2 separate regions of the Homo sapiens genome follow, and region 1 is linked to region 2. Evidence: fine-mapped QTL for protein levels in blood plasma. A gene starts in region 2. The other region holds a variant in brackets. All regions are shown on one strand. Distances are between the middles of the regions. Region 1 holds the start of SIRPG-AS1 (SIRPG antisense RNA 1). Region 2 holds the start of SIRPG (signal regulatory protein gamma).

Region 1 (8,339 bases), 22 kb before region 2:
ATTCTGCTAGGGAAACTGAGGCCCATGGATTTTAGGGAGGGTCACAAGGTTACTTGCATTCAAACCTAAAGAAGCTCATCACTAGTGTTCCTTAGGTTGATCCCTGAGACCATGTCCTTTGGAACAAAACAAGTCCAAATTCCTAGGGACATTTTAATGACTATAAAAGGGTAGGCAGGTGGCTTGAGGATGGCTTCACAATGAGAGTTGCAGGTTCCCTGCTTAGCCCCAGAAGTAAGGGGAGGACTCCGTGTTCTCAGAACTTGGAGGAGCCATGGAACACTGGACATAATGAAACCTTCCGGCTAGAAAACATCCTGGTGAGTCACGGAAATGGGTCTCATGCTTGGGAGGGCCTCAGATGTCACCTAGGCCACCTCCACCCCAGTGCAGGTGTCATCTGAAATCTTTCTGTTAGTTGGGCACACTCAGTTACGGGGAAGCACATGTTTGGACGCTGCATTTTTAACATGAGCAGTTCAGGCTTTTAAAATCAACATTTTTAACGCGAGCAGTTTGGGCCATTAAAGATATTACAGTATATTTTAAATAAATAAAATGGTGCTGGTGGGTCCTTAAGGAAGAAATGGAGAACTCAGCATCTGTGGCTGCTGGGGTGTTGGAGGCCGGCAGTTCTCAGCTGGGTGGCTCTCTGGGACTTCTTCTCCCTTGAGGAAAGCTGCACTGCCCAATTCCAAGTTCACTCCTCCTTCTAGGGGACAGCCCACAAGAAAGATTGGCTGAATTGAAAATAGGAAGGCCACGCTTCTCTCCTCAATTAAAAAACACTACATGACGCTCTCAGCCCTTGGGATCCTCCGCAGGAGCAGCTGGGTCTTTGTTCTACCTGCACTGTAGCTCAGCACCTCGCTCCTCCTACAGTCCTGCCTCCCCATTTCCTGAGGCATGCTGACCCTACAGCTCTTCAGGATGCTTCCTGCATTCCTGTATCCATCTCTAGTCTGCCTTACAGAGAAACTGACCTTGGTAAGTTGTCTGTAAAGCTTACTCTAAAATATAAATTTGAAGCCTGAATACTCATCAGCTCGCAATGAGGACCTCAGGGCTGGCAGTGAGTGGGGCTGGGCACCATGGCTGGGATGCAATTGATAAAACTTTCACTGGCAGTAAGCTGGGATGGCGTAACCACAGGCAGGAAATTCCTTGGCATCAGGCTTTTGAAACAAATTGGGAAATGGTAGTTATAAGGACTAACTTGTTCCATGGCTATCACTGGGCATATTTTTTTTGGGGAAATATGCTGAGAAGCTACGAGTGATTGATTATGAGTTAAGGTTCAGCGTGAAAGCAAGAGGACTTCTTGGCAGCACTGCACTTTCTTATCTCTTGTGGCTAGAGGGCAGAAAGAATAGAGGGTTGGGCCCTGGACATCATTAAAAGAGTAGCAGAATCACAGAGGAGGATGAATCTCAGCTTCAACGGTTGCTATGCTGGGGTAGGGCCCTGATGGGGAAGTTGTGGGACCCTGAGATGTGGGAGTGGACATTTGGGTCAAAGCACTCAAAGATCTTCGGTTGACTTAAGAGTTGCTGGGTACAATTGCAGCAGCATAGCTACTTATCTGTATAAAATATCCTCCCCAAATCAAATAAAAAATGAAAACAAAGTAAGTTCTGCACAACCCTGGCTCTCAGTATTACTTGAAGAGAGAAAGCCAAACTGCAAAATGACCGTGAGTCAAAACAGAACACTCACCTAACCCTAGTGCACAGTCTCTTACCCGGCTCCCACGCCACTGGTGCAGCACTTATGTAACCACAAGGCATCTTGCATTTTACCTGCCAGCCTAGACAACTTAAAATGCATTTCCAGCCTTAGTACCTGAGCAAAGATGCTACATCTGGCAAACCGAAAGCACCCAAAAATGCCAGCCCTGGTCCTGGTCCAAGCCAGTGGGTGGATGAATAACTGAAAAGCAAATGCAATCCAGTCTTGATGGTGCAGTTTTACCTCCCTGAGAAGTAAAACTATGAACCCTAGAAACATCACAAGGATCAGGAATAGGAGAAATTCCAAGGTGGGAGAGGAAGAAGGGAGACTGACTAGGGGCCTCAGGACTGAGGGACAGCCCTGCAGCCAGGCACCTGGGACCCATCCCCCAACACCAGCCCCAGCCATAAACGGAGGCAAAGGAATGACATAGAAAAGAGCAAAAGCCTCAAGTCAATTAAATCACCACTTCAAGAAACTAGAAAAAGTAGAGCAAAATAAACTCAAAGCAAGCAGGAGACAGGAATTAATAAAAAGAAGAGTGCAAAAAATGAATAAACTGGAAACACAAAAACAATTTAAAAACTCACGGAAACAAAGTGGTCCTTTGAAAAGACCAATAAAATGGAAAAAAACTATAGCAAGGCTGATGAAGAAGAAAACAGAAATGGCATATTTTAGATATGAGGTTGAAACAGGGGATATCGCCATAACCCTTCAGACACCAAAAAGATAATAAGGAGATATTATGAACAACTCTACACACAAAAATATGACAACTTAGATAAAATGGACACAAAATTCTTCAAAAGGCACGAGTTACCGGAACTCACCCAATATGAAATGAATAATATGAGTAACCCTAAACTACTGAGGAAATTGAATTTATACTTTTAAAACACCCCCAAAAATTCTTGAGGCCCAAGTGTTTCAAAGAAAAATACTGCAAAGCATTTAAATATGAATTAAAACCAAATTTAGTGCACAGAAAGATAGTCATAAAAGAAATTTGAGGAAAATTTGAATGTATACTCCATTTTAGATGATATAAGGGAATTGTTTTAATAATTTTATGAAATTTAGTGATTAAAAATTTGAAATTGTATTAACTGTAATAATGATACTGGTTTTGTTATGCTGTCTTTAGTCATAAGATCACCCAACTATGGATTCCATTTGGAACTGCGTGTACATGCATGACTGAGTTAGCTGTGGACATGATCACACGCCTTCCATACATCTCTGATTATAGAAGATATTTTTTGCCCTCCATTTCCTATATTTACTCTTCCAGCAGACAGGGACATGGAAAAATCCGTGACCTAGCACTGACCCAGCAGATAAGACTAACCACCATAAGGTATGTGGGAGGAACCTGGGCCTTTGAAAAGTCTCCTGGAGTTGAGACTCCTCCTGGTATTACACAAGAGGGAAGTAAGACATATTTTGGTCATACGGAGTGGAACACAGGCCAACTTCAGGTCCATGGGACAATGCCCAGCAGAAGAGGACTGTTTCTCTAACTAGCACAAATTTGCATTTTAGGCTGATACTGACCTTGTCCTCAGGGACCCAGATTTACTTTAATTAGTTTGAACCAATAACCCGATCTAAAGGCAAGAGGTCTTCAACAACATCCCCCATGACTTCCCAAGTCCTAGTTTCCCCTTCTTTAAAACTCCAGACTTACTGGGTGGTTGAAGCAAAAACAGAGATCATGGATGAATGGAAATTTGCACTTAGTAAATTTGCAGAGGGGTTTGTGATTATTGTTGCTCAAATATCACAATCAGGACACAGAAGAGGTCCGTTCTGTGACCATTCATGGTCACCTGCAGGCCTGGTACAGTTTTTTTTTTTTTTTTTGACAGAGTCTCGCTCTGTCGCCCAGGCTGGAGTGCAGTGGCATGATCTCGGCTCACTGCAAGCTCCGCCTCCTGGGTTCACACCATTCTCCTGCCTCAGCCTCCCGAGTAGCTGGGACTACAGGCGCCCGCCACCACGCCCGGCTCATTTTTTTGTATTTTTAGTAGAGATGGGGTTTCACCGTGTTAACCAGGATGGTCTCGATCTCCTGACCTCGTGATCCGCCCGCCTCGGCCTCCCAAAGTGCTGGGATTACAGGCGTGAGCCGCCAGGCCTGGTACAGTTTTAAACTACATTTGTCTTTCTGAAACATACACAGCAGATGTCAGGGTGTACTGGGATGAGGTCATAAATGAGGATGGAAAAGTTTGGATGAAACAGAAACAAAGCAGAGGTTAGAAAAAGTAGGGAGCACAAGGGTGGGCTGATGAGAAACGGGCACAACAACTCTCAAGGAATAAGGGAAGGCAAAGGACTCTATGAGAAGATGGTTCCCCCTGCCTGCCTCTTTGCTCCTTAAATATATATTTATGTACGCCAGGCGCGGTGGCTCACGCCTGTAATCCCAGCACTTTGGGAGGCTGAGGCGGGCGGATCACGAGGTCAGGAGATCGAGACCATCCTGGCTAACACGGTGAAACCCCATCTCTACTAAAAATACAAAAAATTAGTCGGGCGTGGTGGCGGGCGCCTGTAGTCCCAGCTACTCGGGAGGCTGAGACAGGAGAATGGCGTGAACCCGGGAGGCGGAGCTTGCGGTGAGCAGAGATCGCGCCACTGCACTCCAG[T/C]CTGGGCGACAGAGCCAGACTCCGTCTCAAAAAAAAAAAAAATTAAACATATATTTATGTCAAAAGTTCTATTAACTTGTGCATCAAATTCTTACTAGTCATGACTCTTCGCATGTGGGATTTGGGGGGATGGAGCTGACATTAAAATTTTACTTTGTATTTATAGACTTCTAGCTTATTTTACAGCAAGTGTGGATATTACTTTTAAAATGAGAGAAAAAGACAAAATTTAAAAATTTTGAGTAACCTCACCAGGGGTAGCATCTGAGCTCTGGTCCTTCTGGTGGACTGTGACCTCTAGGGCAAGGCGTTTGCTGACCGCCAGCTGCCCATCATGCTTCACCTGGCAGGTGAGGACCACATCATCCCTTTGGTCAGATATGTTCACCAGGAACCAGCTTGTCCAGTTGTAGGTACCATCCTTGTTCTCTGTAAGGGTCGAGGCTGTTTCTCTCTGGCACACGTTTCCATTCTCCGACCAGGTCAGCTGTAGGCTCTGGGGGTAGAACTTCCTCACCTGGCAGGTGACGTTTACCTGGTTCCCCACCCTCATGGGCTGTTGAGTAACCTCCAAGGTGGGTGGAACTGAAACAGCACAGGGTAGAAGCTCTGATCTTCTGGCACAGACAGATCACAGGGAGGGCTCCATAACTTAACTCCCACTACCACGGTGAGGGCATCACCAGGACAGTGCTAGGCAGGCAGCAGATGCTAAGACATTGAGGGCGCTCTTTGCATATGAATGAAATTACCAAGCACAGTGCCTGGTGCACAGTAGGTGCTCAAGGACTGGTAGCTCCTACTAGGCTAAGAATGAGTGAAATCTACAAGCACAACCCCTGGCATGCAGTTGGAATGTAAGAACTGTAGCAAAATCAGTGAAATCGCCGAGCACATAGGGACTTGGCTCATAGTAGGTACTCACTAATAGTAGTTGTTCTTGGTGAGATAAATGAAACTCTCTAGCGCAGAGCTTGGCACGTGATTGCTGGTCCCCTGACCGCTGCCAATAAAATGATAGTAAGTGACCAGCACACCTAGGTGCATGGCGGGCGGGCAGTATAGTCAGGGATTAGATTACAGGCCATTCAACCTCTGGAGCAACAGCCTGGGGAGAGGGGAGTGGGCTTGACAGCCAGGTGTGGGCTTGGGCTGGGTGTGAGGGTCCTCTACCTCGGATGGCCTCAGACAAGTTGGCAGTCCCACGAAGAGGGTCCCCCTGCAAGGTGACATGGGCCACCTCGCAGATGACCTGAGAGCGAACGTCCCAGGGGTCCAGTACCACCCTGGCTGTGCTGCGGATGCTGTAGGCCACACTCTGTCCTGTGGGGTCCACGTTGGTCTGGAAGTCTGAGAGCTCATTCCCATTTTTGAACCATTTCAGGGTGATGTCTCTGGGAGAGAAGCCATGGGACTCACAGGTGAAACTCACTGTATGCTCAGGTGTGGTCCTCGCCGCAGGGCCCAATACCACGGGGGCAGAGGGTTTGGCTACAAAAGGGGCATCGATAAACAGGAGACATGACTGAGATGACAATCACTAACGATGAGTGTGTGACACTGTTAAGAACCTTCAGATACATTAATTTTAATCCTTCTAATAATGTGGAGAGGATGGTGTTCTTATTCTCATTTTACAGAGCAGGATGCAAAGGTTGGAAGAGGTGACGACCAGCCCCAGGTCAGACAGTGTAGGGAAAGGTCCCAGAGGGAAGTCCAGGTCTGAGTTCAAAGTCCTCCTCTCCACATAGGGTGACTTCCACCAATCTGGGCACAGGAACAAAGTTACTGATTGTTCTCCCTCTGTGTATTAACTGGTGCTAGCCTGTTTCCCCAGGAGAGCTCACCAACCTCAGAGAGGGTGTTTACAGAAGCCAAAGTAGGGAACAATGGCAAAGTGGCGCCACCATGAGACCTGCAACCAGGCTGCTCAGCCCATGAGAGGGGTGGCCTGGAACATGCAGCCCCTCATCTGCAAAGTGGGACAGCAGCATTTTCCCTTCCCAGGGGTGCAACAAGGATTAAATGGGGCCATGGAAGAAGTTTTGCTTTGGATCAAAGTCAGAAGATGCTTCATAAAAATAAACACAGATCTGTCTTTAATCCAGACTTGACATATACCTAGAGCTCTCTCTCTTTGTGTATTTATGAATTTATTCCATATTTTTCATTCTTTTCACAAATATTCCAGTACAGTTTTTGAAAGAAAATGAAGTAGTTAAGGCTAAAGCTTTAACATGGAGTCAAGCGTTTGTAAGAGCATTGCACTCACACCTGCTAAAGGTCAAGCCACAGGATGTTGCTGTAGACCTGGATAACAATGGACTGAAGTCAAGGTACATGGGATTTTGATTTCTCTCATCCTGGAGTGTCCTAATTAAGTAACCAATTCATACGAGTTTGCAGTTTAGCATTTCTGCCAGGCAATGAACTGTTTTCAAAAACAACATTTTGTGAAAGTCCCCAGTACAAAACTTTTCCTGCATTGCCCTATGGGACACTGTTCAGGACTACCATGACTCAGGGTTCCCAAATTGCAACTCTTTATTTCCCAGATAAATGCTATTTCCTTTGGCCTTCCTATCAATCATTATTTTTTTTAGTTAGCAGGTCTAATCTGTGCCAAGTCCCAAATTTGAAAAGAGGGAAGGTTTCTTGGAATCTAGGTCTTCAGTTGGGCCAGGTTGGGTCCAAAAACAATGATCACTGAGTACTAAGAAAGCCAAAGGTGGGTGATTTCTTCATCGTTAATTCATTACAAGAGACAAAGATCTAGGCCACCCCAACAGGCAGAAATCTATCCTGGGTCCTGAAAGCACACAAACTGGAGAATCAGAAAAATGAGGGTAGTTTCTCCCTGTAGATGAGTCCTAAACGTGTCTCCAAATTGCTAATTATTACCCTGCACCTCCTATAGCAGTCATCAGGAAACACATATTAGGCATACTTGCATTTGTAAATATTAACTTGCTCCCTACCACATGCAAACATTTTATGGGCACAGTAAGAAGGGTGTCACTTGAAGAAGTCAAGTCATCAAGACACCAGCAGCATTGGGCATCCCTAGAGGGCTGAGAGGCTGTAACCAGTTGCCATTTATTGAGGGCTTCTTGGGAGCCTGATGCTGGCTGCTCCCTCTGTACCTCTCAGCTCTTTAATCCTCCCTTTATTGCCTTGAGGGGGTCCTCGTGTGAGTCCCTTATAGGACCAGGGTCTGAGGGGACCCCAGCTAGCAAAGGGCCAAAAGTGGATAAAAAACCCACCCTGGTAAGGTGAGGGAGGATGAAGGCAAGCACGGAGCCTGGTATGCAGCAGGTGCTTAATAAATGAGCCCTATGGCTGTTATCAAGAGGTTTGGTCATTACTACTTCTGAATCTACACACTTATTCTTTAGGCAGCAGAACATAGAGGAGTAGAAACACCAAGAAAAGGCTCAAATCCTGCTCCCTGCAGCTCATGAAAAACTCAAATGATAATAAAAGCAAAACCACCAAGTCTGGACAACTGGCTTTCAAAAAAAAATAAGATCATAGGTAAAGCTGGAAGCATTTTGGAAGGAGGAGGGAACAGAGTCCTCTGTGACATCTTTTTATTATTATTATTTTACTTTAAGTTCTGGGATACAAGTGCAGAATATGCAGGTTTGTTTTATAGGTTATGTTTGCCATGGTGGTTTGCTGCACTTATCAACCCATCATCTAGATTTTAAGCCCTGCATGCATTAGCTATTTGTCCTAATGCTCTCCTTCCCCTCACCCCCCCACCCCTTGACTGGCCCTGGTGTGTGTTGTTCCCCTCCCTGCGTCCATGTGTTCACATTGTGCAACTCCCACTTATGAGTGAGAACATGTGGTGTTTGCTTTTCTGTCCCTGTGTTAGTTTGCTGAGGATAATGGCTTCCAGCTTCATCCATGGCCCCGCAAAGGACATGAACTCATTCTTTTTTATGGCTG
Region 2 (8,339 bases):
CGATGAAAACAATAAAAAGGATATATGAATACTTTCACAAGATGATAACATTCACCTACTCATACTTTATTTTTATTGCACTTATCATTGTCAAAAATTAATTTTTTCATTCACCTATTTATCATGTGTATTGATTACTGTCTTTCTCTGCAGTGGATGTAAGCAACAAAAGGGCAATTACTTTTTCTCTTTTATTCTACCAAAGTACCCCATGTTTTTATGTCAGATCCTGGCACATAGTAGGTATCCAATAGATATGTGTGTAATGTTTGAATTGCTCAGTGGGACATTTCCCTCGAAGACTGAAATCTTCTATTTTAGGTGGTTTGCTCCTGTGGAATTTGACAGAAAATGAGTTTCCCATGTAGAGGACTTAGTGAAAAAAAATCAGTTTGCAAACATACAGAAAGTAGAAGAGCCCAGAGAAGAAAACCACAATCTCCCTTCACACCACATTGCCCACTCCACACCCAAGAGCAGCAGCTGCAGAAATCTCATGGAATAGAATCAAGACCGGAAGTGTTTGAGTAATGGTGAAACCTGTGACCTCTAGAGTCAGAGTGCCTGAGTTCAAATCGTAGCTCTACCAGTTACCAATGAGTGAGCCTGGAGCACTTTGTGCTTCTGTTTTCTTATCTGTTAGGAAAGGTGACAAGAATATCTACCTTGTATATAATGATCACATGAAGTAAAAGAGGTAAGGCATTTTCAACAGTGTCTGCCACATGGTGAACGTTCAAAAATTGTAAAGTTATTGCTCAGTAGATTTCTGAGGCTTGGAGGCTTCAGTGGACATTAGATGACAAGGATAAGGATAAGGGTATGGATATGGATATAAATATAACTATAGTTATAGGTAATATAGGCAGACCTGTGTCACCTGTATCCCCACATTTTTTTCCTCATTTCTACCTTCATGGAAGAGGGAATTTCAGGATAAAAATGCACAGAAATTCTGCTTTGAGGGAAAATGCATTTTACCAAGAGAGAAGTTTGCTTATCTGTTGCTTCTATTAACAGATTGGAGGACTTTCAGTGGTAAGATTAGAGAAGTAGGAAGGAGGGAGAGTGGCTGGGCAATAGGGAAAACCACACATCTCTTCAATGTGCATTTCATATAGACTGAAAAAATGAGTTGAAGTTTACAGTAAAGAAAGTCTTTAAAATTCTGTGTGTGTTTCAGCATGGTCACATGAGATTTATCTCAGGAATGCAAGGATGGTATAACATTCATAAATCTCCAAATGTGATATGCTACATCAAGGCAATCTTGAGCAAAAAGAACAAAGATGGGGCCGGGCATGGTGGCTCATGCCTGTAATCCCAGCACTTTGGGAGGCCGAAGCGAGCAGATCACGAGGTTAGGCAATCGAGACCGTCTTGGCCAACATGGTAAAACCTTGTCTCTACTGAAAATACAAAAAATTAGCCAGGCATGGTGGTGCACACCTGTAGTCCCAGCTACTTGGGAGGCTGAGGCAGGGGAATCACTTGAACCCGGGAGGTGGAGATTGCAGTGAGCTGAGATCACACCACTGCACTCCAGACTGGCGACAGAGCAAGACTGCATCTAAAAAAAAAAAAAAAAAGAACAAAGATGGAAGCACCACACTGCCTAATTTCAACATTGACTACAGTGTCAAAGTAATCAAAATGGCATGGCACTGGCATAAAAAGAGATATATAGACCAATGGATCAGAGCAGAGAGCCCAGCAATAAACTCACACATTCACACTCAATTGACTATTGACAAAAGTGTGAAGAAAACACAATGGTGAAAGGTCTGTCTCTTCAAAAAGTGGTGCTGGGAAAGTTGGATATCCATGTGTAGGGGAATGAAATTAGGCCTTCTTCTCATGCCTCATACAAAAATCAACTCAAAATGGATTAAAGATTTAAATGTAAGATCTGAAACTGTACAAGAACTAGAAGAAAAGTTTCATGACATTGGTCTTGGCAATACATTTTTGGATTTGAGCCCCAAAGCACAGGCAACAAAAGCAAAAATAGACAAAAGGCATTAACAACAAACTAAAAAAGCTTCTACCCAGCCAAGGAAACAATCAACAGAGTGAAGAGACAACCTATAGAATGGAAGAAAACATTTGCAAACCATACATCTGATAAGGAGTCAGTATACAAAATATATAAGGAAGTCAAACAACTCAACCATAAGAAAACAACCCTATTAAAATATGGGCCAAAGATCCGAATAGACATTTCTCAGAAGAAGACATTAAGATGGCAAGTCAGCGTATAAAAAAAAATCCAACCTTACTATTCATGAGATAAATGCAAATTAAAACCGCAGTGGGCTATCATCTCACACCTTTAAGAATGGCTATTATCAAAAAGAGGAAATTTAGTATTGGAGAAGATGTGGAGAAAAGGGAACCCTTGCAGACAGTTGGTGGGAATATAAATTAGTAGAGCCATTAGTGAAAACAGTATGCAGGTTCCTCAAGAAATTAAAAATATAACTCTTATCTGATCTGGTAATCTCACTACTGGCATATATCCAAAGGAAATGACATCAGCATGTCACACATATATCTGCACTCCCATGTCCATTGCAGCATTATTTACAAAAGCCAAGATATGGAATCAACCTAGGTGTCTATCAGCAGATAAATGGAGAAAGAAAATGTAGCATATATGCACAATGAAATTCTAATCAGCCTTACAAAAAGGGAAACCCTGTCATTTGCAACAACATGGATGAACCTGGAGGACATTCTGCTAAGTGAAATAAGCCAGGCACGGAAAGACAAACACTGTATGATTTCACGTATGAAGAATCTAAAAAGTTGAGCTCATAGAAGTAGAAAGTAGAATGGTGTTTATCGGGGGCTAGAGAGGGGGTGTAGTTGGGGAGATATTAGTCAAAGGATACAAAATTTCAATTTAAATAAGAGAAATAAGTTCAAGATATCTATTGTACAATGTGGTGTTTATACTTAATAATATGAATTGTATTCTTGAAAACTGCTGAGAGAGCAGAGTTTACGAGTTCTCACAATAAAAAATGATAAATATGTAAGGTAATGCATATGTTTATTAGTTCAAATTAGTCATTCCACAATGTATGCATATTTCTTAATATGTTGTACATAAGTATACATACTTTTGTCAAATAAAAATAAAATAAAATATTTATTTTGTTAAAAATTTCACTGAAAATAGAAAGAGAACCAATGATTAAAAATGAAATCTCATCTGTGCATGTACATGTACATGCATAGGCACATGTGCATATATATGTGTATATAATGTGTATATATACACATTCACAAATATATATAAAAGTTTGGCTTATCATGTTAGTATATAAGGTTGTTTTGTGCATTAATTACAATTATGACAAATTTAAAAATCTCAGTAAAATATTTGGCACATAGAAACCATCCAACACATTTTTAACATTTTGGGAAAACATACATACACTAGTGTTTTACCTCTGATTGTTTCTGACTGGTGTGATGGGTGATTATTAATCTAATGTTTGCTTGCCTGCATTTTCTAATATTTCTACACATAGCATAACATGGTTAAAAGGGTGATAAACTCTGGAACTGGTCAACCTGGACTTGATCCCAACTGCTCCATGGACTGAAGTAGGGGACAATGAACAGGTTCCTGCCTCTGCCTCACTCCCCATTTGCAAATAGAGCACAAGAGTTATAGCTTCCACACAGGGATGCTGTGAGGATTAGTTGACTTAATACACACAAAATGCTAAGAAGTGCATCTGCCTTACAGGAAGAGAGCAATTGCTGAACTATTACTGCTGTCATTTGGGTACAGTGTATGTGTAAAAAAAATAATTTGAAAAGTGAGACCTTGCCCTCTAAGACCTGTGAGATGACATCACAGCAGGGCCCAGTGGGCAACTGAGAGGCTATTGTGCCCAGCCCTGTGACCGGGGGTCAGCTGCATGGTCTGAAAAAGGGGTGAAGACAGGCAGCCTGTCTGGGAGCTGTGAACAGGGCTCTCTCAGGTGGCACCAGGAAAGACCTCCCAATCCTGTCTGCCTGGGGGAAGGGAAAATAAATTCTCCAGAGGAAAGTCAAGATGACCAAGGGAGATGGTGGTGCCTGTTATGGGCTGAATGTGCCCCCAAAACGAATGGGTTGAAGCCCCAATCCCCAGCGCCTTAGAATTTGACCATATTTGGAGACAAGGTCTTTAACCCATTTATGCCCGAGGTTGCAATTTTTTTTTAATTTGAAAAATCAGACCTTGGCGATGCCCTTGAGCAGTAGGATATAAATAACTCCCGCAAGCTTAGTGATCCAATAACGGAGCACTAGGCATAAATGGGTGAAGCAATTTAGTTAAATGAGGTCACTGGCGGGGAGCCTTAATCCAATATGGCTGATGTTCTCATAAGAGAAAATGAGAATACAGACACACACAGAGGAAGACCATGTGTCAAGACACATGGAGGAGATGGCCTTCTACAAGCCAAGGAGAAAGACCTCAGTAGAAACTAACCCTGCTGGCATCTTGATTTTGCAATTCAGCCTCCAGAACTGAAAGAAAGAAAGTAAATGTCTATTGTTTTAGTTACTGAGTCTGTGGTGCTTTGTTGTGGAAGCCCTAAGAAAGGAATATAGGACGCTGTAAGCATGAAATGTGGAACTTCTTAAAGAGGAGGAGGGCACACAAAAATGGGTAGGAGGACTCAAGACAGGTAAGGATTTAATAATGATTCTTCTGTGTTTGTCAAATAAAATATTATAAAAATGTAACTAATTGTGATGGTGGCAGAAGCCTCACAAGGTTTGATGCCTCTGGTAGCCAGCTGCAGATCCACAGAGAAAGTGCTCAGCTCCCTGATCTTCTGCTCTTGGACAATGTCCAGTCCTTGACCTTCCTTGGCAGTGCTTGTGCTTATCTGAAATTGCTGCAAGTCCAGGGGCAAGGCTAGGTCCAGGAAGCAGGGAGAAAGGGTTCTAGCCCAATGCAATGCTCACCTGTAAGTCCCAGCAGTAGAGTCAGAAGCAGGAAAGGACCAGGAGGATGGGGCCAGGAGGCTGGGACAGGCATTTTGGAGACCTCAGAAGCCTGCTCTGTTCAAACGTCTGTTCTGGGGAGATGTCAGGCCCTGCTCTGAAGACAGAAGACAAGCCCTGCCTCCCTCAATTCAAGAGGAAGTGGCTATGATGGAATGCAACAGTAACCTGCTTCTAGATTGTGACTTACAAATCAGGCACAGTAGGCAGCTACAAAGCAAGGAGTTAATCGTGCTCCATTTTCAGGATAATCAGACAGGGTTAGCAGAAATAATGCTTCCTGCCTGCCTGGGACCTGTGCTCCCTCCTCGTGTCCCCAAACCCATTTTCAGGTCTTCTTGGTGATTTGCCATTTGAGGCTTTTAAGTCAAGAAAGATCTGTTGTTAGGTATTGTTTTCTAAAGTCTTTATTTCAAGACCCTAGGATGTGGTTGGCTTGTGGTCTTGTTCTGCACCAGCCTCAACCAAATGCCACTCCGCTGGACGTAGGAGAAGAGTTCACAGGACCTGCTCAACACTGGAGAGGAACCAGATCTTCTCCTGAAATGATTTTCTATTCCAAATTGCTATAATTGGCAACACTTAGCCCAAATTCAGTCTCTTGTGGACCTTAGCACTTTCATGTGCCTGCACCCAGCAGAAGGAATTATTTCTTGACTCCTTCCAGGAGAGAAACTGGGTTTGAGGTAATAAGCAACTGCTTTGTGGAGTGAGGTGGGGATTGTGGGTTATGGAAAGGGGATAGGGTTATCATGAGGGAAGATTATGGTGGGCAGGTTCCTGGGGCCGTCGCATCAATTTCAATACCCTTTCTTCTACACACAGAGCACCTATTTCATTCATCACTGAGTTCGGATGGGAAATGAGGAAAGAGGAAAAATCCATGCTCCTGCCAAGAGTGTGTGCCAAGGAGTTGGGGAAGTCGCTGGGCCCTCCTATGCTCAGTTTCAATCTCCTAAACTGGGAATAGTAAGTCTTTTTGTGCAGTGTTTTAGTGACGATTAAAGAGGTAATGAGCATATCATGCCTGAAACCCAGTAGGTCATTATTGATACTCACGGTGCCAGGTGAAGTGCGGGAACTCAAATGTTGCTTTTGAATGGATCCCTCCTGCATGCTGAGTTGCCCACCAGTGGCTTTCTCCCAGCAACCCAGGCCTCCTGAGACCCAGCTTATATAGTGTATTTGGACTCTCGCTGCCACCCTGAAATCAGTTTCTCCCTCTGGATTCTCTAAATCCCGCTCCTTGTTCAACCATAGATTAATTCCTCCTCTTACAATTTCCAGCTGTGTGATTTTCAAAAAGACACTACTTCTCTGAGCCTTGGTTTGATTGTATGTAAATAAATGTTAGAATATGCACCTTGTAGAGCTATGGTAGGAATAATATAAGCCATACTGAATGCTTGACTCATAATTAATTATAAGCAAAAAAACATGGCTATAATTATTTTCTGTGTACAGGAAGAGTCCACTGGTTCTCTGCCACCGTTGTGCCTTAGAAAAGCCACCTTGTTAAAAGAAATGATTTCTCTTCCAGCATCTATGACTAAGAAAGACCTGTCCAGAATCCTTCATCTCACATGTGGGTTTTAGGTTCTTAATCTGTCATGAATAATTGTCAAATCAAATTGTAAATGTTATCATGTTTTAATTGAAAGTCCTGTTTTAATGTGGCAGATGTACACAGGGTGAAATCTTCCCCTCCTTCTCCACACCCACAGTAGTGAAAACACAAAATGAAAAGAATATATGAATCAATGTCTAATTACACTTGAATACAAGCAATTGGCTTCTATATGACATGAAGGAATTATAACAGCTATCATTTATTGAGAGTTTCCTGTGCTCCAGATATGGTGCCAAGCATTTTTCTATTGGTAATGTCATTAAATCATTGCTCTGACCCCATGAGGTAAGCTCAACCATTAACCTCCTTTCACAGGTGAGAAAACCCGAGGCACATGGAGAGTAATGAATTTGCTCAAGATCACCCGGCTTTTAGAACTGGAACATAGGCTGCCACACTCCACAGCCTTCACTTTTAATGGTTGTACTATGATACCTCTTGCAGGAAGGGAGAGACATCCCTCAGGAAGAAAGCAGAGAAGAAGCTATAGCCTCAATTAGGAGCAGCCCTCATAGTGAGGCTGGGGCAGGTGCCATGCTCCACGAGGCCCTGACAACCCATGATCACATGGGGAATTATTCCTGGGAAGACGGAAGTGCAAGCAAGAATCACCAAAGATTTGAGGAACAGCACTGCAGCTAACAAATTCAAGAAAAACAATAACTCAAAAACAAATAGCAATCAAAAGAACTTCACACCTGAGCAAATATGAAAAAACAAAATGTGTAAAGTTCTTTAAAGTTAGTATACTTAATGATCTTATAAGGAAAACAAAAGAGAAGTAAATTCATAAACCAACATCAGGCATGTAATAATATGAAACAGAAATAGGCGGGCATGAGGTAACAACAACCATCTTGAAAAAATACCAAAACACAGACTTTGGAAATGAAAACATAATCAGTGCTGAAATTTTTTAAAAAAACTTAATAGGTTGACTAGCTGACTATACATAAATAAGTATAATAGTAAGTTAGTAAGCTGGGTGATTATGTAGGGGAAATTTCCTGTGGTACAGCACAGAGACACACCCAAACAAAGTAATGTGGATAGGTAAAAATATACCACAATATTGTGGTATATCTTTTCCTATTGCTCTATTTTTACCTATCCACATTACTACATTACTTTGAGAGGTGTGAGTCATAAAGTATTATGTCTCCAAAAATAAGAATTGGGCGTATATGACTCAAAAATGCATAGTATAGTGTCAGGAAGATGGCAGAATCTGTGCTTAGAGCAGCAAGTGCCTTCCTGTGAACTTCAATCCTTCAGTAAAGATCAACTAAGTACACAGATGCTTACAATTTTTGTGGAAATCACGTGGAGAATTGAAATTTAAATTTAGGTGACTTGGGGAAGCATAGATAAAATCTGAATGTTTGAGAGGACCAGGAACCTGGGAGTCCATGAGCCAAAATTCTCCTTTATCTGCCATATTTCACCCTGACTCATCACAGCAGGTGCAGATAACCAGGGACGACTTTGGGACACATGAGAAACTGGGAGCCAGTGGATGCTCCAGAAGACTAAAGATGTAAGACTGTGGGCTTAAGAATCAAAACTTCCTGGTCTGAAATCCAGCTCTAATGGGTCCCAGCTGTGTGATCCTGGGGTCACTATTAACTTCCCTGTTTCCTGAGTTTCCCCAAGTGTACAACGGAGAGAATAATCATACCATCTTCATAAGTTT

The links. A credible set is the group of variants that fine-mapping cannot tell apart. PIP is the posterior inclusion probability: the model's chance that the variant is causal. Sun 2018 read protein levels with aptamers (SomaScan).
Region 1: its variant is the best candidate, but not a certain one, in a credible set for the plasma level of the SIRPG protein (Sun 2018, PIP 0.52).

Annotation. Positions count from the first base shown.
Region 1 is chr20:1,630,630-1,638,968 of GRCh38, forward strand. It overlaps SIRPG (signal regulatory protein gamma), which reads right to left. Exons shown (of 6, transcript NM_018556.4): 3 at 5,559-5,876; 4 at 4,638-4,970. It overlaps SIRPG-AS1 (SIRPG antisense RNA 1), which reads left to right and starts at 2,879. Exons shown (of 3, transcript NR_110090.1): 1 at 2,879-3,091; 2 at 6,577-6,721. RefSeq lists an enhancer at 4,461-5,286. The variant T/C (reference allele first, on the strand shown) is at 4,386.
Region 2 is chr20:1,652,665-1,661,003 of GRCh38, forward strand. SIRPG (signal regulatory protein gamma) reads right to left here and starts at 5,115. Exons shown (of 6, transcript NM_018556.4): 1 at 4,978-5,115. The coding sequence starts at 5,050.